Linked DNA regions of Homo sapiens. The protein of the gene in region 1 interacts with the protein of each later gene in a pairwise test. Each region holds a gene or a part of one and is shown on either strand. Other genes may lie near its edges. The genes, in order: TASOR2, FBF1, RFC5 and GPRASP3.

Region 1 (7,166 bases):
GGTCCAACCTGAAAGGTGCATATTTCAGGCAGATAGATAGGTGTTTGGCATCTTATAACTGCTCACTTTCCTTTTCCTTAGTAATCTGAAAGTAATTCACTGTACTGAATAGTTAATGGTTCCCTTAATAGACTCTTGTCCTTGGAAAAATAAAATGAAATGACTGGGGTTCTATTAGTAACTGAAAAATTGTCAACAATTAAAACTCTAAAACCTACTCATGAGAAAATAAAGCTCTTTTGTTTAGGAATAATAAAAGCCGACTTAATGACTTCTGAAAGAAGTAAGTGTCCCTGTAAAGGCCAGGTGAAACTGCCATTCTTTAACCTGTTACTCGGTGTACTTGACTGCGGAAAGAACCCAGAAACAGAACAGGCCAGGCCCAAAGGATAGAAGTGTAGGTTTCCTCTGGAAGCTTACTGTTCTGCTAAATGACCTAAAAATTGCTAGAACACTCCAGATAAGTCAATTTCTGCTATAAAAATCATTGCAGAAAGAGATTATTTTTAGTTGTCTTTATTTAAAAAATGAAACACATTAGTTACAAAAACCGTTGCTCCAAATAGATACCGTGTATCTTACAAATGTTTTTTGCTTGGTTTTGAGTGTTTACTGTAGAAATTTTCAATATCATAAATAAATGATTATTTCTTTCTCAGAAAGCTGATTTTTGTAGTGTAGTATTTACAAATACCGTAAGTGAAAAATGATAGTTTATAAATTTGTACCATTTAGGAAAAAATGTTTTATGTAGTGTTGTTTGTGTAACAGCAAATAAAACCATTTAAGATTATAGTTTTTACAAGGGTGGTAAAACCTTTAAAACAGAGCATAATGTGCATCGTATGCCTTTCTGACATTAGCATGCAAAAACAAAGCTATTTGTTAAAATAGACTTATTTTTGCTCCAACTAAGTAAACATGTAAAATTATTTTTAATAAGCTCAATAGCTTAGAAGGCATCTTGTTTAAAATGAAAATAATTTAAAACAATATCTAGCACTGCAACCCAAAGCTAACAGACAACTGCAATGCCACTGTGACATATTTCAGCAAAATATAAAAAATGAAAACTTTCCAAGTTGTAGAACATTGGTTTTTCAAATGTAAGACTGTTCACATGTGTATTCACATGTTCACAAGTTTTCCAAAGGGAAAATACTAATTTTTTATTGGCATCATCCATATCCAGGCAGGCTGTAGTTGAGTCACCTGAAGAAACACAAAATTGATAAAGAACTTCTTAAAATAATACGAACAAGAAATATTTTATAAGCGGGATGCTCTAATGGGGAAAACGCCTATGCATTCTAAGGTTACATTATGTTCTGTACTGACGATCCAAGTTAACAGCAAGTGAAAATGCACATTAGATAAAATAGGTAATTTTAGTAGATGGTTACTTCATTTAGTGATAATTTAGGAATTCCTATTTATGCCAAATAGCAATTCCACCCCTAAACAAACACTTTAAATTTATAGCATGAAGTATGTAAACAACAGTTTCCCAACTGTTTCCCTTAGACACAAATGTCAATATTTGCCATCAACAACTCCAACTCACATGGGAAAGTTACATAAAAAGTGTTCTTACCAATAGCTACTCCTAAATGGAGCTGCTATTTTTTCTATGTTTTCTATAAAGTTATTTACATCTGTAACAAGGATTCCACTATTTTCAAAGACTTCTCTGGGGATAGTAGGCTTGTCTGTTAAAAAAAAAAAAAAACAACTTTTGGTTAATATAATTAATGTACTTTTATATAACAGGACCTGGTTTTTTATTTTAAAAAATCTGTGGAACTTCCTCGTGTGAGGGGTAGGGGGAGAAAAGGTGTTGGGTTCCAAATTAAGAAAAGATTTGAAGCTTTGGAAATAGATGCCTCCATCGGGGGTGGTGGTTAAAGTACTGAAAAAAAATCCCTGAAAAATGATAACTATGGTTCTTTACGTAAATTTTTCTTAACACTTTTTTTTTTTTTTTTTTAAAGATAGATAGGGTCTTGTTCTGCCACCCAGGTTACAGTGCAGTGGTGTGATGACGGCTCACTGCAGCCTCGAGCAATCCTTCTGCCTTAACCCAAGTAGCTAGGACTATAGGCACACATCACCACACCTGCCAACTTCTGTAGAGATGAGGTCTCGCTAAGTTGCCCAGGCTGGCCTCAAATTCCTGGGCTCAGTGATCCACCTGCTTCAGCCTCCCAAAGTGCTGGCATTACAGGCGTGAGCCACTGTCCCTGGCTGCCCCACAAATTTTTTAAAAGCAACCTCTGCCTCCGGGGTTCAAGCCATTCTCCTGCCTCGGCCTCCCAAGTAGCTGGGACTACTGGCATGAACCACCACACCTGACTAATTTTTGTATTTTTAGTAGAGATGGGGTTTCACCATGTTGGCTAGGCTGGTCTCTAACTCCTGACCTCAAGTGATCCGCCCGCCTCGGCCTCCCAAAGTGCTGGGATTACAGGTGTGAGCCACTGCACCCAGCCCCAGTATTGATTTAAAAAATAATACGGTATAACTACTTATACTGTATTGAGTATTATAAGTAATCTAGAACTGACTTACATACATAGGAGGATTGTGTAGTTACCTGCAAATACTACATTTTATATAAGGGCTTCAGCTTCAGCAGATTTGGGTGATTCTGGTATCCATGGGATGCCAAGCCATTTAGATACCTGATACTCTTCATCAGGTATCTAACTTTGACATTCCTAGAGCTGACCAATTTTGGCATTAACTGAGTAAAATGCGCCTGTGAATTACCTGTTAGGAGGACAGCAAACCTGGCATCAATATGCTGAATTTGCAGGTTTAGCAAACATTTCAGAATTTCTGCTTTTGTTGATGATCGAGAGTCACACTGGTGATAATGAAGCAATTCAATGATATTTGCACTCTGAAATGACTTCAACATTATGTTCTTCTTATGTGCAGTTGAATCCACTCTGTGAAAGATACATAGGCATATTAAAATATTTTTCAGTTTTATTCTTAGGACTTTTTCTTGCCTTCAGTTTAACCATTCAAACTCATGAGTTCCTCTGCCTTTCTTCTTGACGTTCTTTTTCATGACACACTTTGGTTACCTCAAAACATCACAATTGTACCTACTCCTTTTGTAAATGTGGATTTTAAACATGGGCCTCATTCTAAGAGGGACATCATGCATCTACCTACGACCAATCAAGCCATGTGGCTTGGCAAGCCTTTCATGAATTTCGAGTGGGCCTTATTGCGTTGTATATTTGTAGAGCAATGCACATCTATACTTCTCATACCTTGTGGGCAGATAATCGCCAACTTCATTAAAATTAGGTAGCAGCCAGAATTTTCTTGGTTTCTTGCTTCCCTGAAAATTCTATCACTACTAGGAAAATGTGTTAACTCAGTATGTTTAAATTTTTAGCATTTCTGTCTCTGCTCGACTCCCGTCTCTCTAGTTTTCATCACTTACATTCTCATGCTTGTTGGAGAAAACCCAAATCACACCCATTCCCATAACCCTAGTGATAATCACTCTTAACATCATGAATTAATTTCCTTTCACTTTTTCCTGTATAAATTTTTTATGACATCATACTGAACATAGTTACATGATACCAACTTTTATGCCATCCCTCTTTCTATGAATAGAAACTTTTTACATGCTTCTATTGTGTAAGTTTTGGGTGGGCATTATTTTGTATAAACTTTAAAATATTTAACTGTAGTCTGCATATCTCCCTCCTAGAGATGGAACTGAGGTTGGTTTTGCAATGACTGATAACCACCTAGAATTTTGGGTAAATTCCACAAAAGGTCAAAGGATATGAAGAGTTTTCTAATGAGTTCTCAATAATACATAACGCCTGTTACATAATGCCAGAGTGGTATAATATGAAGAGCATACTGCAGCGCCAACAGCAGTGAGTACGGGCATGTACCACATAATGATGTTTCAGTCAATGACGGACCACATATACAATGGTGGTCCCATAAAATTATACTACTGTAATTTACTGAACCTTTTTTGTGTTTAGACACACAGATACCACCATTGCATTAAATCTGCCTACAGTATTCAGTACAGTCACATGTACAGGTTTGCAATCTAGGAGTAGGCTCTACCATATCAGTTTGTGTAAGTACACTCTATGTCTGCACATAGACAAAATCGTCTTATGACGTTTCTCAGGCTGTATCCCCGTCGTTAAGTGACATGACTTTCTCTACCCAAAGCCCTAGAAGTGCTAGATTGATTTATGCTTATTTTATAGGTGTGCTGTGGTACATCAGAACCTTAAATGTGCTTCTCTACTTACCGAAGTTGACGTTTTTCCCCTCAAGTGCTGGTTACTGAAGTCCGCTGTGAATGGTCATACCCTTGACCTGCTGAAGCCTTTGCACCCTCCTTTCCTGCCAAGGAAACCTCTGTGCTCCTTCTCTCCTTTGCTAGCTCCACTTCAAGAGAAAAGCTTTCTGAGATTCTGTTCCTCAAAGGTCACATACAGCTAACAGTCGTTTCGTCTTTCTGGGATTGAAACCCAGCTTCATAACTTACTACTTGTTTGACCTTGGTCATGTTTGTTATCTACTCTGCTTCAGTTCTGCATTATAAAAGTGAGGATTTGCTATCTAGCTCCTGGGGATGAAGTCTGAATGAAAATGGATGCACCTAACAGTGCCTGAAATCCTTATTTCACAAGGGCTTGTCAGGTCTGCTTTTCCAATTGGTCCTGCTTGTGAGAATGTGGAGGAATCTCTCAGCCCCAGCTCTCTTCAGCCAAGGAATCAAACATGTATTTTTTTCTTTTATAAATTACAGCTTTAGACTTAGTGAAGTTTGCGTATTTATAAGCCTCTTCTTTTAGGGTACAACTGAATTAAGGATAGATTATGGTCTTAATTTTTCCATTCTCCTTAAAGTGGTGGCAACTTATAAGTATCCAAAAAAGCATTAATGGTACAAGTTCCATATATTTTTTAAAGTTTGTAGTAGTAGGGCTTAAATAGAATATGGACATTTCATGACTGCTAAGTTTGACTCCCTTACTTCTGTTAGTCTAGATAAGTACATGCCTCATACTGTTGGCTACGGTCACAGCACATAGCTTCCTTCATTGAATACAGAGCCAGCAGCCCTCATGCTCTTTACTGATGAAGGCCATTCCACTGCAGCACTAGGCTAGAGCCCATGGAACATGAGGCGTTTCTCTGCTACCCCAGCAGGGCAGGAGGAACCATACACACAGCAAGTCCTTACCTTTCATCTTCTTTTAGCTTTTTATTTTCCCTGTAGTGAAGCAACCACTTCCATCTTCCATTTCCATTTAGTTTTTCCAGGATTTTGATAATTTCCTTCAGTTGAACTACAAAACAATAAATGTAGCAAAAGAAGATGACAAGTTTAAGGTACTTTTGGCTCATGCCAAGCCCAGTGATAATTATTTGTAAAACAAGAAAAAAACAGACTAAGACCCATGGTTGAGTACACACCATCACTGTCACTTATGTGGTTGGGCAGCATCCTGCTCTCACAAGCCCCTCAGCCTGGTCCCACCTGCTCACACTATGGTGGGAGATAACTCTGTAGACACGAACACAGTGGAGTGGTCACCAGCAACTAGAGTTCTGTGTACAAATTGTGTGACAGAAGAGAAGCAGGAGGCCCCGATGCAGTAGAGAAATGAAGTTTCTAAATACAGAATCCTTTTTTTTTGAGACAGGGTTTCGGCTGTCACCCAGGCTGGAGTGTGGTGGCATGATCTCAGCTCACTATAGCCTCAACCTCCTGGGCTCAAGTAATCCTCCATCCTTAGTCTCCTTAGCTGGGACTACAGGCACACACTACCACAGCTGGCTAGTATTTTTATTTTTTGTAGAGATGGGATCTCACTATGTTGCCCAGGCTGGTCTTGAACTCCTGATCTCCAGGGATCCTCCTGCCTTGGCCTCCCAAAGTGTTGGGATTACAGACGTGTGCCTACAAATATTTAAAATCCCAGGTTCTGTGTAGAAGTCACACTGGTTAAGGTACATGCTGCTTTTGATCTAGAAGTGGTATCACTTCCAATGTGATCAGAGCCGGGGCAGGTTTTATACATAAAAGTGCCCTGAGAGAAGTAAAGTATGAGTTTTCAAGTAGATGATTAAATAAGCTGACTTAGTAGCCATTTTTTAGATTTTTGTGACATCAAGATGGTAGGGGTGTTGACATCAGAAATGGAGAAGGTTGACTTTAAGCAAACAATTTAATATGGAGCTGCTCTGACTTGGCAAGTGAAGAGACTAAATATAATAAAATCCTGAATTTGTGTTACTAGGAGCTTAGCTGCACTACCGAGAGGGAGGGAACTCAGAAGCAAGTGTGGTGGTAAGAATCAGTTAAAAGAGGTGAAAAGCATTGCTATAAGAGAATCACTGTATGAAAAGAGCACAGCAGACAGCAGAAATTATGCCTCAGTAGGGGGCAACTGATATTCCTTAGAGTTGATCATTTCTTTTGGATGAAACAGTATTTAGGTCACTGGGTGAGAAGTTGATCTGACTTCAAAGAAACAGGAAAAGAAAATAAAGACCAACCTAATGTTACAGCTTCTAGTATCTTGTCATCTGATATCACAAAGCCTCCTGCACGAAACAGTTCTTGGTAGGTGTGATCAAGAACATCTCCAGGGCTGTCTACTCCAGCAAAGATGACACTGGGGAAATGCTTCAGCTTCAGCAAAGAAGGAATCTGCATGACACAAAAAGGACCCCGGTGAAGAGAGGCTCACTGGGCACATTTTCTTAGACACTCCCTTGCTTTTCTATCCAAGAGAGTCAAGGTTCAGGAACAACTGAAAATATTTCAACCTGGATTACCGACTGGTCATTCTGCCCTGCATGAGGCATATTAACTGAGCTCATCATCACCAGGGGCTGCAAACTCAACAAAATTAGTTCATTAAAAAAAGGTCTCAAACTCCCAAAGGTTGGAAATAACACGTCATGAGGGAAGAGGACACATCTGAGGTTGTGGGCACTGAAAAGTGAGGTCACCTCACTTCGCCGTCATTCGTCTCCAGCTCCCCTTGGTGCCAGCACCGACGACTGCCTGCTGATGACGGCAGGTTTATGCACCCAGCCTTTGTCCGTAGTTGGGTCTTCTTGAGACAAGCAATTACTTTGATTCAACTAGC
Region 2 (7,763 bases), on another chromosome or scaffold:
GCCAGGTTGGCTTCTTCATCCTCTTTCTATCTGAATAGCTCTAAGCACATCGGCATTACTTCCCATACCCAGTACGTTCTTAACCCTGGGAACCTGCTGCCACTGGTCAGTGACAGATGAAGGCCACGGCCGAACAAATGAAGTAACTGTTGTTGGAAAACCTGGAAACCACTTGATCCAACTTATTATTATTTTTTTTAGACAGAGTCTCACTCTGTCGCCCAGGCTGGAGTGCAGTGGCATGATCTCGGCTTACCACAACCTCTGCCTCCCGGGTTCAAGCAATTCTCATGCCTCAGCCTCCCAAGTAGCTGGGATTACAGGCGCCCACCACCACACCTGACTAATTTTTTTGTGTTTTTAGTAGAGATGGGGTTTCACATGTTGGCCAGGCTGGTCTTGAACTCCTGGCCTTAAGCGATCTGCCCACCCTGGCCTCCCAAAGATCTGGGATTACAGACATGAGCCACCGTGCTCGGCCTGATTTTTCTTTAGACCTGTGTGCCCATGGCTGTCATTTGATCCTGTTCCTGTTCTCTGTGGGTAGAACTGTCCCTGGTTCATGTGATGGAAGTCAAGGTCTCTGTACTTCGTGGTGTTCTACAGACAGCACGTGGCCTGCCACCTGAGCCGGTCCAGGAGCCACTGCTCACTGGGCCTCAGCTGACTGTGCAGGGTCCCTGGGCATCGTGACGCCCAGCTGCAGGCTGCTAGGGGGCCACTGGGACTGGCTGTTTCCCCTGCCTGACACCCTCCTTTCTGTCTTGAAGTAGGTTCTTCGCAGACAGTGGCGCAGACCCCAAGGGAGAACCAGGCTCCAAACAGAGCCCTCCAATGGCTTCCAGCCCCATCCAGCCCAGGAAGGGAGGAGCTGACTGGTTGGGCCTCAAGGACGAGGACTTGGACCTGTTCCCTGCCTCACCCACCAGAGAGGCCCATCGGGAAAGTTCAGTGCCTGTCACGCCCTCAGTGCCTCCTCCTGCGAGCCAGCACTCCACGCCAGCTGGGCTGCCCCCCTCCAGGGCAAAGCCACCAACTGAAGGTGCAGGGTCCCCTGCCAAAGCCAGCCAGGCTTCCAAGCTGCGAGCCTCCAAGGAGGAGAAAGAGGACTGGCTGAGCCATGCCCTGTCTCGGAAGAAGTCCCAAGGCCTGGCCAGAGAGCAGCATGCTGGGACCTCTGAGGGCCTGCATTTGGCGGGGACAGCGGGCCATCCCCCTTCTGGCAGGTACTGACTTAGGCTGCTGTGGCTAGTAGGGGGAGGACTGGCTGGGGACTTGAGGAGCCCCTTTGCCCCTTCACCTGTTGCAGCCTCAGTCAGCAGTTGGGGAACAAGGCAGGGCGCCGTGGCCACAGAGGCCGCTTCTTGGCTTTGCTACTCTGCCTTTTAGGCACTGCAGAGAGAGCCTCTGGCTCCCAGGCTTGCCCCAGGGACATACCCAAGAAGGAGGGCTGTTGACATTCATGCCCTGACCGCCATGGGGACAGGTGCTAACTTGATCGAGGAGAAGACAGAGGGTCCCTGAGGTGGCAGACACACCGCTGCCCTGTCACAGCGCCCTCAGGCTGGAAGCCCCGGCATCCAAACAGCCGGTGCTTCTGCCGACTCCACTGAAGCGAGTATGGCGTGTGTGAGCTGAGATGTCCCTGTGCTCTTTGAGAGTGTTAGAGGAGACATAGTGGCCGAGAGGCGCCTCTTGGAGAAGCCCTTATCCGTGGGGCAGGATAGCGAGTGACCTCTGAAGGCAGGAAGGCACAAGGGGCCAGCAGGCTGGGGGAGTCCAGAGGAAGTGGTGAGATGTGCTGTGGCCAGAGCCCAGGGGAGTGAACTGGGCAATTTGTGACAGCCCAGGGACATCACCCTGTCCTGGGGTTGATGACAGGAGGGCAGTTTTGACTTTGACCTGAGGCCGAGGGGAAAGCTCAGGCCAAAACAGAAAAGAGCCTGTCTCTTCACTGACCCGTGAGCCGAGAAAGAGGTGGAAATAATGGGAAAGGGAGCCAGCCAGATTTGGTAGACTGAGCAGAATCCTAATCTAGAGCTGAGCCAAGTTAAGTGGACTGGAACAGGGCTCTGAACTTGAACTTGACTCCAGTGTCTATAACATTTCCGTTGTCACTGCTTGGACAGTGTCCATTCACTGCACCACTGTGGACATTGAGGCAGGAAGGGGGTACTGGAAGGGAAGAGATGCCCAGAAATCCCAGGAGCTCAGACGTGGGAGGAGAATGCCCCAAGACGGGATGGTGGAAGCAGGAGGAAGGGGGGCCACGAGCTTCACGTGTGAAGCCCGTCCTGGGCCCTGTCTTCATCCAGCCTGACCTGGGCCTTCTGTCACCTTCACCTTGAACGCTGCCTTTCCTCAGCCAACCTCTCACCAGCACACAAGGGCTTGAGCACGCAGCTGCTGGAGGGAGTTCTGGAACAACTGCACGAGAAAGACCGTGTGTCAGGCCTGGTGTCTCGGGGTAGGCCTGGGCTGCGGGCTGAGTGGGAATGAGAGCATGGTGGGCAGCACAGGCCTCTGTCCTGAGAGAGGGACACAGAGGCTGTTCACCCTGCCCCTGCCCCGTCCCCGTGTCCCACACAGAGGCTGCCCACCCTGCTCCGTCCCTGTGCCCTACACAGAGGCTGCCCACCCTGCCCCATCCCCGTGTCCCACCTAGAGGCTGCCCACCCTGCCCCGTCCCCGTGTCCCAGCAGAGGCTGCCCACCCTGCCCCATCCCCGTGTCCCACGTAGAGGCTGCCCACCCTGCCCCGTCCCCATGTCCCACCTAGAGGCTGCCCACCCTGCCCCGTCCCCGTGTCCCACACAGAGGCTGCTCACCATGCCCCATCCCTGTGTCCTCAGGTCCCCTGTGACTCAGAACCATGCCGCCTCAGCACTCCCTACAGGTTCCCCAAAGAGGGGAACAGCCCCTGGAGACCTCTCAGCCACTGGTTTGTTTTTTGTTTGCTGCTTCATTTGGGAGTTTAACCCTGGGTGAGGAAGAGGTGCTTTGAGCTTCCTTTGGGGTCCCTGGGACATGAGTTACACCAGCCCCTCCTGGACACTCGCAGGCCCAGTGCCCTGGGCCTCCTGTTCATTTCTCTGTTGTTGATGTTTCAGAGCCTGCCACGTGTTTCCCGAGCACCCAGAAACCCACAGAGCCTTCCGTGCCCGTCCAGGTAGGGGTGTGGGCAGACAGGTCTAGCTCAGGGCCTAGGGAGCAATTCTCCATGCCCAGGGGCAATACCCACAGTTTGACCTGACGACCTGCCAGGAAAAATGTGTCAAACATACCAAATGTGACGTCAGCCAGCTCCCCGGGCACCCCCCACTAGAACTTGCCTGAATTTCTAGCCTCGCTGCTCCTGGGCAGAGCTGGGTGTTAATTTGCCTACATCAGTGGGGAGTTTAAGGAGGCAGCCAGGCCGGGGAGCTGGGATGCTGCAGTCAGAAAGCAGGGCCGCAGGGTCCTGTTCTGTCAAGAAAGCCTCCTCCACCCTTGCCATCCTCCCACCACACCTCTGCCTCTGTTTCCCATGTGTGGCAGTCACCTGTGACACCTGGGCCTGGGAGGTGTGCCCCCCCCCCCCCCAGGAGTGTGTCCCTGGGAGATGGTGGGTAGGGGACAGCTCGTGGGAACCAGATTAGTGTCAACATGTGGGCTTCAGGCCTGACAGGAAAAGCCAGCATCAGCTTTTGTCATAGCGAAGACTCTGCTGGGGTTCAGCCATTTGTCTGGGAAGCCGGAGACCATGCTGGGGAGGAAGCTGTTCCGGAGGGTGGAGGGAGACATGCTCCTGACCAGATCTGCAAGGGGAGGTACACTGGGGACTGCTTAGCCGCAGTGACTGTTACTTTCCAAGGCCTTGGCCCCATCTGCAGCCACAGATCAGATGCAGGGAGGTCCAGTGAGCAGTGGGCCAGGAGGTAGCTGATCTCAGCTGGGCCCCTGTCCCCTCCCTAACTAGAAACACCTCTCTTCCTCTCCTCCAGCCCCTGCTCCCAGAGTCCCTGGCCCGGAGCCTGCTGCCGAGCACAGAATACCAGAAGCAGCTCCTGGCAGCACAGGTGCAACTTCAGTGCAGCCCCGCTGAGCTCCAGGCCGAGCTGCTGCATAGCCAGGCCCGGCTGGCAGAGCTGGAGGCCCAGGTGAGGGGCAGCGGGGCCGTTGGTGCTGGTGGCAGGGTTGCGACAGGAGGGGACACTGAGAGTGGCTGGAAGCTTCCCCAGGAGGGAGGAAGGGCTGTTGGCACAGGGCAGCGTGGAGTACAGCCACCTCCCCTCCCTGGTTGCTGGCCCTCCTGCTGTCTCCCAGGTGCGGAAGCTGGAGCTAGAACGGGCCCAGCATGAGCTGCTGCTGGGGAGTCTGCAGCAGCAGCACCAGGCAGACCTGGAGCTCATCGAGAGTGCACACAGGTACCCTGGCGCTGGCCCCAGCTCTGCCTTGGATCTCACACTGACCCCAAAGGCCACCCAGTGTGCCTGGAGAGGCCTTTAGGCGGCAGCCCTCTGCCTTCCTTGCGCCATGGCTGGGTGTTCTGTTGGCAGAAGCCGCATCAAGGTGCTAGAAACATCGTACCAGCAACGGGAGGAGCGGCTCCGGAGAGAGAACGAAGAGCTGTCAGCTCGGTATCTGTCGCAGTGCCAGGAGGCCGAACAGGCCCGTGCTGAGCTTACGGCCCAGCACCAGCGGCGCTTGGCGGCCATAGCGCAGGAGAAGGACCAGGAAATGGAGCGGCTCCGGGAGCTGCAGCGGTGAGGCCCAGGGACAGGCAGCTGGGGAGCAGGCTTGCAAGGAGTAGCCGGAAGAGAGCCATCCCCACGAGACCCTTCGCTGTGGCTCAGCAGCCTTTGGACAGGGGTTGGGTCCTTCCCTCCCAGTCCAGTGAGTGAGGACTGAGGGCTGAGCACACTGACCCATCACACCCATGGGTGGGGGTGCCACCTGCTCTTACAGAGGCAGGAGGGGGTACCCACAGGCTGTTCAGGCATGGCATGGCAGCAGCAAGCCGCCTAGGGTCTAACTAAGCACAGGGTCATCCACTCGCCTGCTCATGCAGTAGAGGCTAGAAACAAGATCCACCTGGGAAAGGCTTGCGCTGTTGTGCCTGCCATGTTTATAGGGTTGCCTTTCTAGAAGAGAAGGAAACTAAGAAAAGTTACCTAAGGGAGTCAGAGGTCGATGAAGGCAGAGGCAGCCTTTTAAGACTGCTCAGGGCCGGGTGCAGTGGCTCACACCTGTAATCCCAGCACTTTGGGAGGCCGAGGTGGGAGGATCACTTGAGGCCAGGAGTTTGAGACCAGTCTGGGCAACACAGTGAGACCTCATCTCTAAAAACAATTTTTAAATAAGCTGGCATGACAGCTACTCCTGTAGTTCCAGCTACTTGGGAAACTGAGGCAGGAGGATACCTTCAGCCCAAGAGATCAGGGCTGCAATGAGCTATGATGCCACTGCACTCCAGCCTGGACCACAGAACAAAACCCTGTCTCTAAAAACATTTAAAAAACAAAACACTTGGGAGGCCAAGGCAGGAGGATTGCTTGAGGCTAGGAGTTCAAGACCAGCCTGGGCAACATAGTGAGACCTCATCTCTAGGAAAAAAAAAAAAAAAAAGAAAGACTGCTTGGGGCCGGGCGTGGTGGCTCACACCTGTAATCCCAGTGCTTTGGGAGGCCAAGGTGGGTAGATTGCCTGAGCTCAGAAGTTCGAGACCAGCCTGGGCAACACGGTGGAAACCCCATCTCTACTAAAATATAAAAAATTAGGCGTGGTGAGCGCCTATAGTCCCAGCCACTCGGGAGGCTGAGGCAGGAGAATTGCTTGAACCCAGGAGGCAGAGGTTGCAGTGAGCCGAGATCATGCCACTGAACTCCAGCCTGGGCGACAGAGTGAGAGACTCTGGGTGACAGAGCAAAACTCCATCTCCAAAAAAAGAAAAGCTGAATAATGGGAGGAATGCCCATCTTAGTGCGTGTAGCATTGAGGCACCATGACAGATAAGACAGAGGAGCTGGGGAAACTGAGGCAGTGCCCGGCGGAGGAGAGGCCTGGGAGCAAGGGCTGCACGGAAACACACCCTTCCACAAGGAGTTACCGCATCAGGGTGATCCAGCTCAGAGTGACCGCCTTCCCCTCCCGCCTCCCCTCAGGGCGTCCATCCTAGACATGCGCAGAGACCACGAGGAGCAGCTGCAGCGGCTAAAGCTGCTGAAGGACCGAGAGGTCGATGCGGCCACCAGTGCCACCTCCCACACGCGGTATGTGCGCTGCCCCAACCATGCCCGCCTGACGTTGGGGGCCGGAAGGTCCCCGAGACCGTCAGGAGGGGGTGACCCAGTCTTCTTCCAGGTCCCTGAATAGCATCATCCACCAGATGGAGAAGTTCTCCAGCAGCCTGCACGAGTTGTCCTCCCGCGTGGAGGCCTCGCACCTCACCACCTCCCAGGAGCGGGAGCTGGGGATCCGGCAGCGTGACGAGCAGCTGCGGGGTACGCCCTCCCCTCTCAGCCACCCCGGCTCCTGGTGGGAAGGGGGAGCAGCTGCTGAGCACCCTGTGGGTTGCCCCCAGCACTGCAGGAGCGGCTGGGCCAGCAGCAGCGGGACATGGAGGAGGAGCGGAGCCGGCAACAGGAGGTCATCGGGAAGATGGAGGCACGGCTGAATGAGCAGAGCCGGCTGCTGGAGCAGGTGAGGCCCGTCCTCCTGGCCCTCCTGCCCCTCCTGCCACGGGGCCTCTTCTCCAGGGCACCCGCAAGTGTAGCGGCACTCCCGTGACCTCACTTCCTCAGGAGGTCAAGGCCCCACCTGCCGCTTCCTGCCTCTACATCTCCCTGCCCTGGCCAGGCTCTCAGCACTGCCCACCTGAGCATGCAGGGGCCGCCTGGCCAGGCCCCCCACCACGCCCTGTCCGCTCCTCAGCACCGCAAGCCCCTCGGCCACCTTGGCTGCCCTCCGCAGTCTAGCCCCCGCAACCATCAGCTGCACTTCCCACTTCCTGACACTCGAATCTGTCACATTAGCTGAGGCCTGACATTGGGACAGATGCTCTTGCCCATTAAATGTCATCCTAGCCTCTTCAGCTCTCACAGAGACATTTGAATTCCCTAGATACCTTTCATATATAAGCACATGCTTTATTTAAATAATGATGACCTTAGCCAGGCACAGTGGCCTGTGCCTATAATCCCAGCTACTTGGGGGGCTGAGGCAGCAGGATCACTTAAGGCCCAGAATTTGAGACCAGCCTAGCGAGACCATAAATAAATTTTTTTATGCCAGGCAAGTTGGCTCATGCCTGTAATTCCAGCACTTCAGGAGTCCAAGGCTGGAGGATCACTTGAGGTCAGGAGTTCGAGACCAGCCTGGCCAACATGGTGAAACTAAAAATAAAGAAATAAGAAACTAGCCAGGCGTGGTGGCGCACGCCTGTAATCCCAGCTACTAGAGAGGCTGAGGTGGGAGAATCGCTTGAATCTAGGACACAGAGGCTGCAGTGAGTGGAGATCATAACATGGCACACCAGTCTGGTTAACAGAGCGAGACTCTGTCTCAAAAAAATAAATAATAAAAACATTTAAATTTTGTTTTAATTAACTGGGTGTGGTGGTGCACACCTGCAGTCCCTGCCTTTGCTCACATCCTTTTCCTTACCTGTGGAAATCTTTCTAGGCTGAATTCAATGGTAATGAATCTTTCGATGCTACCACCTCCACAAAGCCTTCCTTGTCCTCCCACCTATCTTTTTGTCCTCAGCTAGTAGTTATCATCTTC
Region 3 (6,795 bases), on another chromosome or scaffold:
GAGAGAGCAAAAGAAAATGTTTTAAAAACAAAAGGAATCATTTGTTGCAAAGAAGGCAAAGGGAGGGAAGGATTTGGCACTGGAATAGCCAACAGGCTGTGGCATCCTCTGATGAGGTGACTCTTCCGGTATTGAATATGTGGGTTCCCACTGCCTTGTGCCCATAGAACTTTGCTGCTCACCTGCATTGCTGCCTTGGCAATTTCTTCTTGGCTCCCTGCAGCTTGGTGGCAGCTGTGACAGCCACTGTGATCTCCCCTTTCCCCCTCTGTCTACACAGAGCACCAATATGGCCTTTGGGAAGGTGACAGAGGAGACTGTCTACACCTGCACCGGGCACCCGCTCAAGTCAGACATTGCCAACATCCTGGACTGGATGTTGAATCAAGATTTCACCACAGCCTACAGAAGTATCCTTTCTCATGACCTCCTGGCCACCGAGACCTGAAGGTGGCCCCAGGAGTTCAGGTTGCAGCCAGCACCCACACCTTGCTGGCAAAGGATGACTGGCTGCAGGCGACTCTGGTCAGCTTGTTGTGGGAGTGAGATGTCTGTAGGTGGAGTGGGTACTTGTCTTTAGCACTCCAGAGTTCTTCTTGGAGGGCTCTGACCTTCAAGTCAGGGTAAGGCTTGAAGCAGCTTCACTCACAGATGGGAGAAAAGCTTAGGCCTTGGCATTGAAGATGCAGGAATTTTCAAGTGGTCATGATAGTGATAGCTCTTGTGCTGTGAAATGAAAGGCTAGGAATGGTGACACAAAGCCTTTTTGGAAATGCATTTGGGGCTGGGTGTGGTGGCTCATGCCTATAATCCCAGCACTTTTGGAGGCTGAGGCGGTAGATCACTTGAGGTCAGGAGTTCAAGACCAGCCTGGCCAACATGGCGAAACCCCGTCTCTACTAAAAATACAAAAATTAGCCGGGCGTGGTGGTGGGTGCCTGTAGTTCCAGCTACTCGGGAGGCTGAGGCATGAGAATTGCTTGAACCCGGGAGGCAGAGGTTGCAGTGAGCCGAGGTCATGCCACTGTACTCTAGCCTGGGTGACAGAGGGAGATTCCATCTTAAAAAAAAAAAAAAAGAAAGAAAGAAAAAGAAAACGCAGTTGGCTTTATTCTCTACTAGAAGGAGTTACAACTCTATCTTTCAGAAAGCCCTTACTGAAGATGAAACAAAGAAAAATAAAGAATTGGAGTCCAACACGTGCAGCTTCAAGTTGAAAGAGAAACAGTTGTGTTGGGATTAAAAGCCTTACTTTAAAAAGTCTCTTGCCCGGGTTTGGATTCAAAATTCTCTGCAGTATGTTTGTTCTGGAACTTGTTCCCTTTGCCTTAACTGCTCCTCTAGATATTACAGAGTTGAAAACTCTGAAGGGGTTGGCACTGCATGATATCCTGACAGAGATACACTTGTTTGTGCATAGAGGTAACTTACATTATCCCCCAGCTGAGAAGCTGTGGAGAAGGTAGCCTGCTTTGGGGTTAAGGATGGTTAGGACAGGAGGCTTCATTCTTGAAGCAAAGAAACTAATGAATTGTAAATCAGACCCTTCTTGTTAGCAGTTCTGTCTTGCCACTGTTTAAAATTTTGTTCCAGAGCTGGGTACGGTGGCTCAAGCCTGTAATCCTAGCACTTTGGGAGGCCAAAGCAGGCAGATCACCTGAGGTCAGGAGTTGAAGACCAGCCTGGGCAACATGGTGAAACCCCGTCTCTACTAAAAATACAAAAAATTAGCCTGGCATGGTGGCGCACGCCTGTAATCCCAGCTACGTGGGAGGCTGAGGTGGGAGAATCATTTGAACCTGGGAGGTGGAGGTTGCAGTGAGCCAAGATTTGCCACTGCACTCCAGCCTGGGCGACAGAGCTAGAGTTTGTCTCAAAAAAAAAAACAAAACAAAACACAAAAAACGTGTTCCATAAACCCTCTTTTAATATCTAGAACTGCTGGGGAAAGTGAAAACTCCTGGAGGCTAACTTTATTTCCTCTAGGGGTTTATATTTTATAGCAGTAAGTAGTATATATTAATTCACATTTCTAAAAAAAAAAAAAAAGTCTGTCTATCTATCTGTCTATCTAGATATATATTCCCAGAAAAGAAAGAGAAGATATGTAAACCATGTAAACCAAAGCAGGCTTAAGGAAAACATCTTAAGTTCCACACTTGCCTGTACCTTCTACACAGAGAATTGGTTCTCAACCTTGGCAGCAGATAGGGGCACTCCAGACAAATTAAGTCAGCTTCTCGGAGGACAACCAGGCATCCGTATTCTCTAAGCTCCCCAGGTGACTTGTGTAGGCTTTCGGAGAAGCTCTTCCTTCCACAGTGGCCAACTGCAAGATGGAGACTTAACCGGGTCAATGAATGTTGGTTCTGCCCAGGCCTTCACAGGCCTCTTCCTGGCTGGCCCATGCCATGCCTTCTGCCCAAGGTATGGTTGGCTCAGGCCCAGCTCTGCACCTTGATTGTGGAAGCTGAGCATAAACCAACTTTAAAAAATCAGTTGTTTGTGCTTGGTTTTTAAATGGGGACAGGATCGGTATAGTGGCTGACGCCTGTAATCCCAACACTTTGGGAAGTCAAAATGGGTGGATCACTTGAGCCCAGGAGTTTGAGACCAGCCTGGGCAACACGGTGAAACCGCATCTCTACAAAAAGTACAAAACAGCCAGGCAAGGTGGCGCACACCTGTAGCCCCAGTTACTCAAGGGTCTTGAGGTGGAAGATCCCTCAAGCCCAAGAGGTCAAGGCTGCAGTGAGTCATGATCACGCCATGCCATGGCACTCCAGCCTGGGCAAGACAGTGAGACCCCGTCTCAAAATAAAGTAAAATATAAAATAAAAACAGCAAGTGGGAACTCAGCATTCAAGTTAACTTGTAGAGCTACCCAGCTGCTAAGAGCAGTGTGATCTTTGGTGCTCTTAGGATCACTTTGGTATCTGCTCATTTTCCTTTTTGTCTACCCTATAAAGCACAAAATCGAGTGGGTAAAAAGTATGAAACCAGCACTGTTTCTACTTTCTTAGAGGTCTGGTATCTAGTGAGCAGGCTGAGGCCTCAGGACTAGTTCAGTGTTAAGGATTTCATGTTGAAACTCATTTGTCCTCTGTGGGTTTTTTGACAGTAGAGAGTGACCTAACTCATTTGATTTTGTTTTTCCCTCAGTTGACTTTCCATCTTCAGTTCGAATACATTTATTGACCAAAATGGCAGACATTGAGTGAGTACTTCTTGCCCCAGTTTTAATTCTTTTCTTCCTTTTTTCCCCTGTTGTGAGTTATTTGTTTCAACTTTCTTGGTTTCAGGTTTTTTTCCTAAATCGTTCACATACGGTACAATCTAGTCTGGTGATATTGAATGGAATGTGGGGAAGGGTGTGAGCTGCTTAAAGAACATGGGGATAAATTCACAGGTCAAGTACAGATCAGTTACATATCTGAGATGAAGGCCTCTCCTTGGACCTCACAGGCTCGGCCCACATTGATTCTGAAAATGCCCTTGTTATTTGGGAGGCCTGCTTTGCTTCAACCACCCAGCTGTTATTAAGGCATTTTGGCATACTAAAGCATATTGGGGGGAAAAGTAAACACAAACTCAATTTTCTGCTTTGCCTGGTTCCGTAAACACTGTTATTAGCCCCCAGTGAAGCTGGCAGCTATCATTTAAGTAGACAGAGCATTGGGTTCAACATAGACGTCAGCATAGGCCAACTCTAATTTGTGGCATTGGCTTTCACAGGCACAAATTAGGTCACCTCTCCTCATTGCATTGTGAATATGATGATTTTGCTATCAGTGGCTGGGCATTTAAAAGGTGGCGAGATGAACTCCAGTGTCCTGCTTTACTGACTAGACCACAGACCCACCAATGTATCAGCCAAACTTCCCGATGAAATGGCTTAAGAGGAAGGAAATCTCTGTTTTGTTTCCCTCTTAACGTATTTTGCCGACGAAATAATCCTTCATTACATAAATTTTGTATATCTGTATAGTTAGGACAAAGTTAAGTTCAGAACACCGCTGTTGACACCTAATAATTTATTTCTTTTTTTGAGACAGAGTCCCACTCTGTCGCCCAGGCTGGAGTGCAGTGATGCAGTCTCGGCTCACTGCAACCTCTGCCTCCCAGGTTCAAGCGATTCACCTGCCTCAGCCTCCTGAGGAGCTGGGATTACAGGCATGCACTACCATGCCCAGCTAATTTTTGTTTTTTGTTTGTTTGTTTTGTAGAGACGGGGGTTTCACCATGTTGGCCAGGCTGGCCTCCAGTGATTGGCCCGCCTCCCAAAGTGCTGGGATTACAGGTGTGAACCACCACGCCCGGCCTGATACCTAATAATTTTTAAAATTGAATCGGTCCTTACAAGTTTGAAACATCACATTTATAAATCAATGTGTAGGGCAGAGAAGAAAATGTTAGGGGGACACATACAAGATTGCCATCCAGGGCACATTTGTTCTATCAATTCCCATCCCCACTCCTTCAACAGATTTTCAGCCCTAGATCTCTTGGTCCCTTAAGAAAAGGCAGCTGTGTTTGGTGTCTTTTTTCTTACCCTGTGTTTGGTTTCTGTTAGGTACAGGCTTTCTGTTGGCACCAACGAGAAGATCCAGCTGAGCTCCCTCATTGCTGCATTTCAAGTCACCAGAGACCTGATTGTTGCAGAGGCCTAGATGCTCTGAGGGCCATTCACAATTCTCAGGGCTCAGCAGTGATGGGAGAACAGAGGACAGTTCCAGGATAAACTGCTGCCTGGGGCTGTGGGATGAATCAGTCACCCCGAATCTTGGAAAAACCCCCTTCCAGGAGAGGATGGGCAGGCATTTAAAAAGTACCATTTTTGTGGTTGTTTGGAGCAGGGATGTACAAAATAATTTTAATGTATTAACTCATACTGCCTGTCTTTTATAGGGGAAAAAAATAACCTTTTTTATTTTAAAGTTATAAGGTTTTTACCTTTTAGTTGCTTGGATGACAGGGAATTAGCCTACCCCATTTTGGTCTGGAACAGAAGACTTTCAAATTTAATATGGTCCAAGTGTCTTCCTACTCAAGGTAAACATTATCTCCAAAATTACATTTATGATTCTAATATTTGGCATTGTGTCTGTATCTAATTTAAACAGATGTTAATGGACGTCTGGCCGAAACTATTATACTTTTATAAGATGAGCTGAATCCTCTTACTTTAAAAACTGGTCTTTTTATTTACCCTCTGTGGTAGAAGAGTCACCAGCAGGTTCCAAATTGATGTGTATGATAGGAAAAAAACCTTAATTTTAAATATAATATAGAGCCTTAAACTATGCCACTGGGTGGCAGAGGCTGTATAAAACGCACTTGTTTTCATGCAGGAGCGGGGCAAGTAAGGTTGAGCCTGACTGTAAACCTAGAACTGCGGAAGGACTGGGACTTTTGTACAAATTTCACATTTATTTTACAGCAATCATGCTGCATTTGTGTTAGTGTTCTTTATAATAAAAAACAAAGCAGCCTCCTGGCTGGCTGTGTTACAAGTGACTCTTCCTTAGACAGCTAGAAAGATGCTGACTTTGTCAAACTTGCATTTATATGAAAACCTTCTGTCTCTAATATCACAGAATAAACTTTCTTTAGATGCTGTTCTTTATAAAATGTCAAATTCTTAAACTGTCAAATGGAAAAAGTCACTATTCCCTTTGTTCATGGAGGACTCACCCCCTTAAGGACAGCGGCAAAGTATGAAGCTAAATATCTGATGGCCAACCAGGCCTCAAACCACCCAGAGGCTCAGCATCTGCTGTACCTGGAACTTCAAGATAACCATGAAATGTAAACGTTGGCCAATCCATTCCCAGCTCTTCTGCTGTACTACTTGTTTTATGTGTTTATTTTTTGAGGCAAGATCATGCTCTGTCAGTCACCCAGGCTGGAATACCGTGACACGATCGTGGCTCGCTACAGCCTCCATGTCCCAGGCTCGAGCAGTTCTCCCACCTCAGCCTCCTGAGTAGCCGGAACCACAGAACCACAGGTAAATGCCACCACATCCTCAGCCCCCTGAGTAGCTGGGGCTACCATGCACACCAGCACCACACTAAGTTTTTTTGGCTATTTATTTATTTATTTTTTAAATAAAGATTGGGTCTTATCTCACTCTGTTGCCCAGGCTGATCTTGAACTCCTGGGCTCAAGCAGTCCTCCCACCTCAGCCTCCCAAAGTGCTGGGATTACAGGCATGTGCCGTCACACCCAGCCCTGCTTGTTTTAAAAGGGGACTTTTTTTTTTCTTAATGGAAAAAAATGAAACAGAGAGCCAAAAGCTTTTAACTGTTGTTTTTTTCTTTTCTTCAATGAAAGCCTCTCATTTTGAAAAGACATGTTTTTCTTCAAGCAACAAAGGTGGTAGAGGAAATTCCTCAACTTTCTCAACGAGTCATGTAACGTTACACTGGCCTCCATAAAGCACCGATTAAGAAAGCTAAAGAATAAGATGTTGTATTTCTTTTAAAATAATTTAAAATATATTAAATTTTCCTAAGGCAGGTTTTGTTTGAATGAGGTGTCTTGATTAGATAACTACATGCCACTGAAGGAGAACAGTACTTTTAAGGAGCTATTTTTGTTTCGCAGTAGAGTTGAAACCAGCTGATTAATCCAATGAAGTTAAACAGCAGAGACAGATCTCGTACATAAGAGTATCAGCTAAAGTCATGACTACACCAATTCTTTACACAATTAAGACATCTTTGCAACTGTTCAATTTAAGTACTATGGTTTTTAGATAATCGAGAAAAACACAGTTGTACCTTAACATCT
Region 4 (7,763 bases), on another chromosome or scaffold:
GATCTCCTTCACTGCCATAATTTTCTCATTGTTATAATTTTTGCAAAGGTGGTTTCATTTACATTATTTACAATTAATTGCTATTAAAAGAAATTATGCATTTTAATATTCTTGCATATATTTACTTAAAGCATTATACTAGAGAAATAAAACTCTCACATCAGAATCTGCAGGCCTATGTCCTTCGTATTTAAGACAATGTGTTAAAGTTTTAATACTATTAAGCTTAAAGGACAAAGCCAATAAGAACACACAAATGTTAAGAATCATAACCTAGAGTGATTCATCAAAAAGTAGTGTGACATGCAATTGAAACTCCTGTTTCTCTTAGTATGACTAGTATCTCCTAAGTCACATATATTGGTGTGTCTGATTGAGGCATCCACAAAGGGAATACAAATGACCAGGAAAATGATCATATTTTTCTGCCTCTTTGTGCTCTATATTTTAAAATGCAGGTATTGGTACTTTTAGGAATTGCTTCACAATCTCTGTCTTCCTCTCTTGCTCCTTCCAACACTGAAAAACCATACAGAAAGCAGCTGTGGGTGGCATACTCTGGGCTAAGCCCTGGGGTTACAGGCAGCAAAGACACACCTATGAATTAGCATTGATCTGCAAACCACAGAGGGTACCATGGAATTGTCATGATTCAGTAGCCCCTCACCTCCTTCAACCCTTGACTGACTATACCGTCTACAATGTGCTGAGAATACAGTGGGGAACAATACCAAAAGGGTACTTTCATTCAGGAAACTTCCAGTCTAACAAGTCAAACTCCCCATCGCTTGGAAGGGAGAGTAAAAAAATATATATATATTCAGAAGAAAAAAGCACATGCATGCATTAGGCAGGGTGCAAGGCTGGGAGAAAAGGAGGAGTTGAGGAGCGCAGCTGGAATCTGGGATCTGCCTCGAGGAAGTGCGCGAATAGTGGTCCCCTCTCCTCCCAGAACAGTGGAGAGGCGCCAAGACCATCCCTACCTGGTGCCATCAAAGAGAGAGGACTGTTACGACCTCCTGCGAGTCCTGACAGGGAAAGGCCCTCTTTTGGGGTCAACTGTGGGGACGGCGCAATGCCAACCTGAGCCACCATTTGAAATGAGAAAAAGCGGCGTGGCAGAAAGAAATGAGTCTGGTACAGACCAGTGGTTGGTTTCCTAGGGTTAGAGGTCTAGGTCTACCTTCTGTTAGAAGAGGGGCAGTGGTGAGGCCTTGATGGGAGCCCCCTGCCCCAGAATTCACTTAAGAGCAGGTGTACCTTCCTCCCCTGCGTGGCTCCATGAAGCTGGGAAAGAAACGCACAAGAGGACCACCCTAGAGGCCCAGGCTTGTTTGGCCTGAAATCGCCTCACCCCTCCCAGACTGCACTGCTGACACCCCCTCTCCCATTAGCTTCCAGGAAGGAGAGTGAGAGGGCTGGGGAGAGGGAAGGGGCAGACACCCAGCAGTCCCTGGTTGGGGAGTTGGGGCGGGGGTGCAGACACACCAAGGGGCGGTTTGGTATCCATCCGCTGCTCCCTCCAGCGCGGCTCTTCCCAACCTCCTGATCCTGTCCCCTGCCTGGGTCCCCAGCCGCCCGCCCGTCCCTATATTATAGCAACGCCAGAAATGTGGTGGTGGTGGTCGCCACGTTAGGGTCCGCGGGGGTCCTCCTGAGGCAGCCTGGTGCCAACCCGCAGGCCCAGGCTGGGGCTCGTCATGGCCCCGCCCACCTCTGGGTCGGAACTAAGGTGGGCCTGAGAGGGGGGCGTCGAGCACTTTCGCGCCGTATCCCTCCGCCCCCCTTCCCGACACCCTCGCGGAGAGAGCGGTTCTTGCAGCATCCTGCGCAGCCCCTGCCCAGTTTGGTGCAGAGGCGTGGGGGGCGGGACGCGTCTTTGCCATTCTGATAGCGGGGAAAGCGGTGAGAATCGAAGTGAGGAGCCGCCAGAGGAGAGCTGAGGAGAGGAGGGGGAGGTCGACGACCTGGGCCCTGGGCCTCTGAAGGCAAGTGGGGGTGCGTGAGCTTGGGGTGGTCCGCCAGGGTGGACCGGCTGGCAGCCTGCCCCGCCGACCCTGACATCCTGGCAAGGAGGAGACGATCCGGTCGGAGCCGGTCGCCGGAGAGAGGTGCGCAGTGCTCGAGACCCCTGGCGATGGGGAGGCGGTGACCGGTGCAGGCCGAGCCAGGCCAAGGGCTGAGGGGCTGGCTTGAGAGGCACCGTCAGATCGTCTGGAGGAGAACCGCGCTGACCGCCTCCAAGCCAGCTTTGCAGGCGCCGGCGCCCCGCCCTCGACGGTGTCTGTGCCCGGAAAGGGCTGTGGGGGAGCTCCTGCGGGAGAAATGGCGGAGCGGGAGCCATTGTGGGGGGCTCCCGGGAAGGCCGGGGGGAGCCGGCGTCCCAGCTCTGTGCCCAGCCCACGAGAGGTGGGCCGCGTTCGCTACTCGGGGCCCTGATTCCGGAAAGGGGCCTGTGGGACCCCGTGTCTTGGGTGCTGTCCCTTCCCACAGGCTCCAGGTGGTTGTTAAAGTCTCCTGTCTGCGTGATAGGTCTGTTGGGTTCTCCAAAAGTGGAACTTTGAGTGGGTGAATTATGAAGACACTAAAATGAAATGTTTAACCGCCTTTTATAATACCGCACTGTTTTATTGCCTTACATATTTAGATCCCCACATCCAGTTTTGTGCAAGCAAATAGGGTGTGGACTTAGTCGAATTTCACAACAGTGGTCCATGTAAATAACAGGGTAGTATTTTTCCACCTTTCTTGTTCAGGATCTGTTTTCTCAACATGCTGATCCACTTTAAGTAATGTAATGATGTGTGAGAATGTGGGTTCCGAGTAGAGGGGTAATCTTTTTGAAGGGTCAATTTAGAACATTTGAAGTCAATCTGCTTCTTCAGTTTATGGTTCTGGAAACCAAAACTCCATCTCCAGCCACTCCTCACAGACCCTCTCATTTTGGTGCAGAAATAGTCCCACAGAAGAATTCATGGCATTTCTGATGGTGGATATCTGAGGAGCTATGAGAGTTGGGAGACTTTATTTACTTAGTTTCTGATTCTCAAAAAGGAGGTGTTAGAATCCGAATTCTGGGAATCTGTCCATTAACCTGCTATTTTTCTACCATTGTTAACATAGTCTCTTGGGGTTATTTTTTGCTAGTTGCTCCGCCTTCTTTTTGTAGGGCGTGACTCTTCTTTGGTGGGAAGGATAGCATCTCCTGAGAACTCCTGCTGTATAAGCAGGCTGACATAGGTGGTGAATAAAGTAGGATCTAGGTATGCATGGGGAAGGGGAAGGACATGCACAGATGGTATTAAAATAACAGTCTCCATTATGTTCCCTGCCTGCCTTGTAAGTACAATTGCCTATGTTCCACTACCTATTTCTGCACCTCATTTTTTTTGGTTCAGGAAAGGAGCTGTAACTTCTATTGGGAAAATGACTGACTTCAAAGTTGGCAGGAGGTGTAATCAGGCTGCAGGTCTTGGGGTGATTAGGGAATCATTGAGGAAGAGCAGACAGGTGGGAGACATTTAACATAGCCTTGAATATTCAAAAGCATATGTTATAATCCTTGTTATAGGCATTAGATCATCTTAGTCTCTTCTGTTTTCTTTCCTCTGCCTTCCTTTCTATCCTTAGGTCTGTTTCTTTCTAGGTTCCTGTAGAGATCTGTATGTAGCTGTTCACTTGGAAGTTAATTAAGAAAGAACAAAAACTATTCATTTGGATTCAAGGTAGGTTTATGTGTGAGCACCCCCGTTGATTGGGGTTATGGAAAGGCTGTTGCCAAGTGGGTTAGACCAGATCATATCTTGGTGCCACTGTCTTCCATCTTTCTAGTCACCTCTGACCTCACATTTGTGTACAAGTGATGGGGTGGGGTGAGCCAGGATTATGCCTATGAGGTAATTGGTAGATATTGGGGCAGGAAATGGGAAGATAAGCCACAAGGAGTACTAGGAGGCCAGAAGTGTTATATAACCAAAGCCCTAGATTTGGAAAGGCAGAAATTGGGTTTAGAGATTAGAGTGTAGGTCTGTCAACCAAATACTCAGAACTCCAATCCCATCTGTATTTTTGTCCATAGGCCTGCCCATGAGTTAACTATAGGGCATATCAACACTGCAAACAGGGAAGGAGGAAAAATTGCACTAGATCAGTGCAGGTTGGTGTGAGTGCTGCCTGAATACACCTATGAGGTCTAGTGGTATATATTTTAGTGGTGGACCTACTAGCATGGGTCCAAAGAGACTGGGCACTCCTTTAGCCTTTCTCACTCTCAGCAAGCTTACCTGCCATCTTTGTTCCTGTTTGATGCAGAGTAAAAGAATGACAGTGCTTGGGCAGGACATTGTTGAGCATTAGTGGCAGTGTGCAAGGTATAAAATTAAGTAGCAGAGTTTTTTATTAATCCACTTCTACACAATTCATTTCTACTCTCCTATGTCCTTCTGTGTGGCTGTTTGCATAGAGAAGCACAGTTAGACAAGACTCAAAGCCAGTTTCTTTCTTCAACCTCAGGTCCATCTCCACTGGTGGCTGTGGTGGCTTTGGATTGTTGGAAGACCATCACCTTCAGCAGGTCTGCACTTGGGAACAATCATTCTCCCCCAGCCCGAGCGTGCCTCTGCCCTCTGTATCATTGACAGAGGCTGTATGTTTGGAAAGAGAACTTTGTGACTGCAGAACTGACAGTTGACTCTAATTCTTGCTACCAAGTTTTTCCCCGACCCAGTGAAAGAGTGTTAAGACTTCGACCTAGGACACATTGAGAACCAAGGCCAAGACTGGACAGGGCCATATAACTGGGCTTCAACCATGGCTGGGACTAAGAATAAGACAAGAGCCCAGGCCAAAACTGAAAAAAAGGCTGCTATACAAGCTAAAGCTGGAGCAGAGAGGGAGGCTACTGGTGTTGTTAGGCCTGTAGCCAAGACCAGGGCCAAAGCAAAAGCCAAGACAGGGTCTAAGACAGATGCAGTAGCAGAGATGAAGGCAGTGTCTAAGAACAAGGTTGTTGCTGAGACGAAGGAAGGAGCTCTGTCAGAGCCTAAGACTCTGGGCAAAGCCATGGGAGATTTCACTCCCAAGGCTGGGAATGAGTCCACCAGCTCCACATGTAAAAATGAGGCTGGTACTGATGCCTGGTTCTGGGCTGGGGAAGAGGCCACTATCAATTCCTGGTTCTGGAATGGAGAAGAGGCTGGTAATAGTTTCAGCACTAAGAATGATAAACCTGAAATTGGTGCCCAGGTCTGTGCTGAGGAGTTGGAACCTGCGGCTGGGGCCGATTGCAAACCTAGGTCAGGGGCTGAGGAGGAGGAGGAAGAGAATGTTATTGGGAACTGGTTTTGGGAAGGAGATGATACTAGTTTTGACCCTAATCCTAAACCTGTGAGCAGGATAGTTAAGCCTCAGCCTGTGTATGAAATTAATGAAAAAAATAGGCCCAAGGACTGGTCTGAGGTAACTATCTGGCCCAATGCCCCTGCTGTAACTCCAGCTGTGTTAGGATTTAGATCCCAGGCACCATCTGAGGCAAGCCCTCCTTCATATATTGTTCTGGCCTCCGCTGAAGAAAATGCCTGTTCTTTGCCTGTGGCAACAGCTTGCCGCCCTTCTAGGAACACTCGCTCATGCTCACAGCCTATCCCTGAGTGTCGTTTTGATTCTGACCCCTGCATCCAGACCATAGATGAGATTAGACGTCAAATCAGGATCAGGGAGGTAAATGGGATTAAGCCATTTGCTTGTCCTTGCAAAATGGAATGCTATATGGATTCTGAGGAATTTGAAAAACTTGTTAGCTTACTTAAGTCAACTACTGATCCTCTTATTCATAAAATAGCACGGATTGCAATGGGTGTCCATAATGTTCACCCATTTGCCCAAGAGTTTATTAACGAAGTAGGTGTAGTGACACTTATTGAAAGCTTGCTCAGTTTTCCTTCCCCTGAAATGAGAAAAAAGACTGTAATTACTCTGAATCCTCCTTCTGGGGATGAAAGACAACGCAAAATTGAATTACATGTTAAGCATATGTGTAAAGAAACCATGTCATTTCCTTTGAACTCACCGGGACAGCAATCTGGATTAAAGATACTAGGACAACTGACTACTGATTTTGTCCATCACTACATTGTTGCCAATTACTTTTCAGAGCTTTTCCATTTGCTGTCCTCAGGAAATTGCAAAACCAGAAATCTTGTTTTGAAACTACTTTTAAATATGTCTGAAAATCCAACTGCAGCCAGAGACATGATCAATATGAAGGCATTGGCAGCATTAAAACTCATCTTTAACCAGAAAGAGGCAAAAGCCAATCTTGTTAGTGGTGTGGCCATATTTATTAACATAAAGGAGCATATCAGAAAAGGCTCAATTGTAGTTGTTGATCACTTGAGTTATAATACACTCATGGCCATTTTCAGGGAAGTTAAAGAGATTATTGAAACAATGTAAAATGAGCCAGAGATAGAACATTTTAAGCCATCTTCAAACTCTAGCAGGCTGTACATTACAGTGTACACATTATACACTGCATCTTTAACACAGAGTCACCTGTGACAGGCTCTAGGTTTGAGCTAGACTATTTTGGGGGTATCAAATGAATATTATACCTTGGGCTGAAAATGTTTGATTTTTATCTTGTCTAGATTGGCATATTTTTAACATTTTACTTAAGATAGCAAACCAGTTCGTTTTAAGTAAGCTAACTTGTTCATTAGTATCTGTGGCTTAAAATGGCAAAAAAGAAAATATCCTTGAGTTTGTAATCTAGTTACAGAAGTAAGGCATACACACACACAAAGATAACAGTACCTAGAGAGAGAGTGTGTGTGAGTGTGCGTGTCTCTGTGTGTGCACGTGCACGCTCATGGCCAAATGTGCGCACTCTACATAAAGGAGGCAGGAGTTCCTATAGGCTATTTAATGTAAGAGAAACTATTTTTCTCCTGTTCCAGCTGTATCAGATACTCGTTCCGCAACACAGAAATGACTCAGAATCTCAGACAAAATGTATTATTTGTTCAATTTTAATTTTGCTACTACATTCATAACTCTTAAATTGTTAGGCTGTTTCATTTACATCAAAGTTATCTCACAAAAGAGAAGGCAGGAAACGTTTTGTGAGTGCCTATTCTATGTCAAACACTGTGTTGGCACCATATTTTACAAGTTTTTTTCCTCTTCTCACAGTGATCTTGTGAGTTAGTTACTTATATTTTTATTAGAACTCATTATTCTGGGTACCCTCCAATGAGAATTAGAGAGGTTAAATACCTTTTCCTAGATTCCCACAGCAGGAAGGTGGCATAGCTGTTTTGTCTGACACCAGAACCCATCTCACCACACTGCTTTACAGTCTTCCTGAAGGACATTTTGAGGTGGGGGGGCCTTCAAAGCTCAGAGACTGGTTTGAATGGTTTAATTTTGCAATGGATCATGTCCATGCCAGGTGTTACAATTCTTAACTTCCTCCAAATTCGTGTGTCCATTAGACATTTGGCTACATCTGGCTGGAGGTCAGGAGAAAATTCTGAGGTAAATAGATGGATTTTATCTGGCAGTGTCGAAAATAGTAGGAGCCTAAAACTTTGTTCAATGAGTAAGATGTAGATTTGGAGTCATCAGCAGGGGAAACTTGTTAGATGTCCTTTGTATCTTTTTCTATCCATTTGTATTTTTTCTTTCCCAAAGAGCTGAAATCATTTTATACCCTGAATTTAAAAGGTAATTGCTTTTTTCCTCCTTGCGAAATCATACCTTAA

What was found.
Region 2: the proteins of TASOR2 (region 1) and FBF1 interact in binary tests that used the Homo sapiens proteins (3 or more experiments, as listed by UniProt).
Region 3: the proteins of TASOR2 (region 1) and RFC5 interact in binary tests that used the Homo sapiens proteins (3 or more experiments, as listed by UniProt).
Region 4: the proteins of TASOR2 (region 1) and GPRASP3 interact in binary tests that used the Homo sapiens proteins (3 or more experiments, as listed by UniProt).

The regions. Positions count from the first base shown.
Region 1 is NC_000010.11:5,757,075-5,764,240, reverse strand, and holds the end of TASOR2 (protein TASOR 2), read right to left. Parts: intron 6,722-7,166; coding exon 6,568-6,721; intron 5,355-6,567; coding exon 5,249-5,354; intron 2,952-5,248; coding exon 2,770-2,951; intron 1,710-2,769; coding exon 1,595-1,709; intron 1,213-1,594; coding exon 1,209-1,212; 3' UTR 501-1,208; downstream 1-500.
Region 2 is NC_000017.11:75,916,649-75,924,411, reverse strand, and holds part of FBF1 (fas-binding factor 1), read left to right. Parts: intron 1-770; coding exon 771-1,226; intron 1,227-2,365; coding exon 2,366-2,467; intron 2,468-2,851; coding exon 2,852-2,940; intron 2,941-3,109; coding exon 3,110-3,168; intron 3,169-3,982; coding exon 3,983-4,138; intron 4,139-4,304; coding exon 4,305-4,405; intron 4,406-4,537; coding exon 4,538-4,744; intron 4,745-6,142; coding exon 6,143-6,250; intron 6,251-6,341; coding exon 6,342-6,481; intron 6,482-6,561; coding exon 6,562-6,680; intron 6,681-7,763. UniProt on the Homo sapiens protein: Keratin-binding protein required for epithelial cell polarization. Involved in apical junction complex (AJC) assembly via its interaction with PARD3. Required for ciliogenesis.
Region 3 is NC_000012.12:118,026,609-118,033,403, forward strand, and holds the end of RFC5 (replication factor C subunit 5), read left to right. Parts: intron 1-280; coding exon 281-410; intron 411-1,344; coding exon 1,345-1,422; intron 1,423-3,162; coding exon 3,163-3,217; intron 3,218-4,573; coding exon 4,574-4,670; 3' UTR 4,671-5,626; downstream 5,627-6,795. UniProt on the Homo sapiens protein: Subunit of the replication factor C (RFC) complex which acts during elongation of primed DNA templates by DNA polymerases delta and epsilon, and is necessary for ATP-dependent loading of proliferating cell nuclear antigen (PCNA) onto primed DNA.
Region 4 is NC_000023.11:102,744,187-102,751,949, forward strand, and holds part of GPRASP3 (G protein-coupled receptor associated sorting protein 3), read left to right. Parts: intron 1-1,792; exon of another isoform or gene 1,793-1,988; intron 1,989-3,630; 5' UTR 3,631-3,725; intron 3,726-4,512; 5' UTR 4,513-4,809; coding exon 4,810-6,453; 3' UTR 6,454-7,763. UniProt on the Homo sapiens protein: Survival and differentiation promoting protein that plays a role in the regulation of neurosynaptogenesis. Induces phosphatase PP2A activity which results in APP dephosphorylation and inhibits BACE1-mediated processing of APP.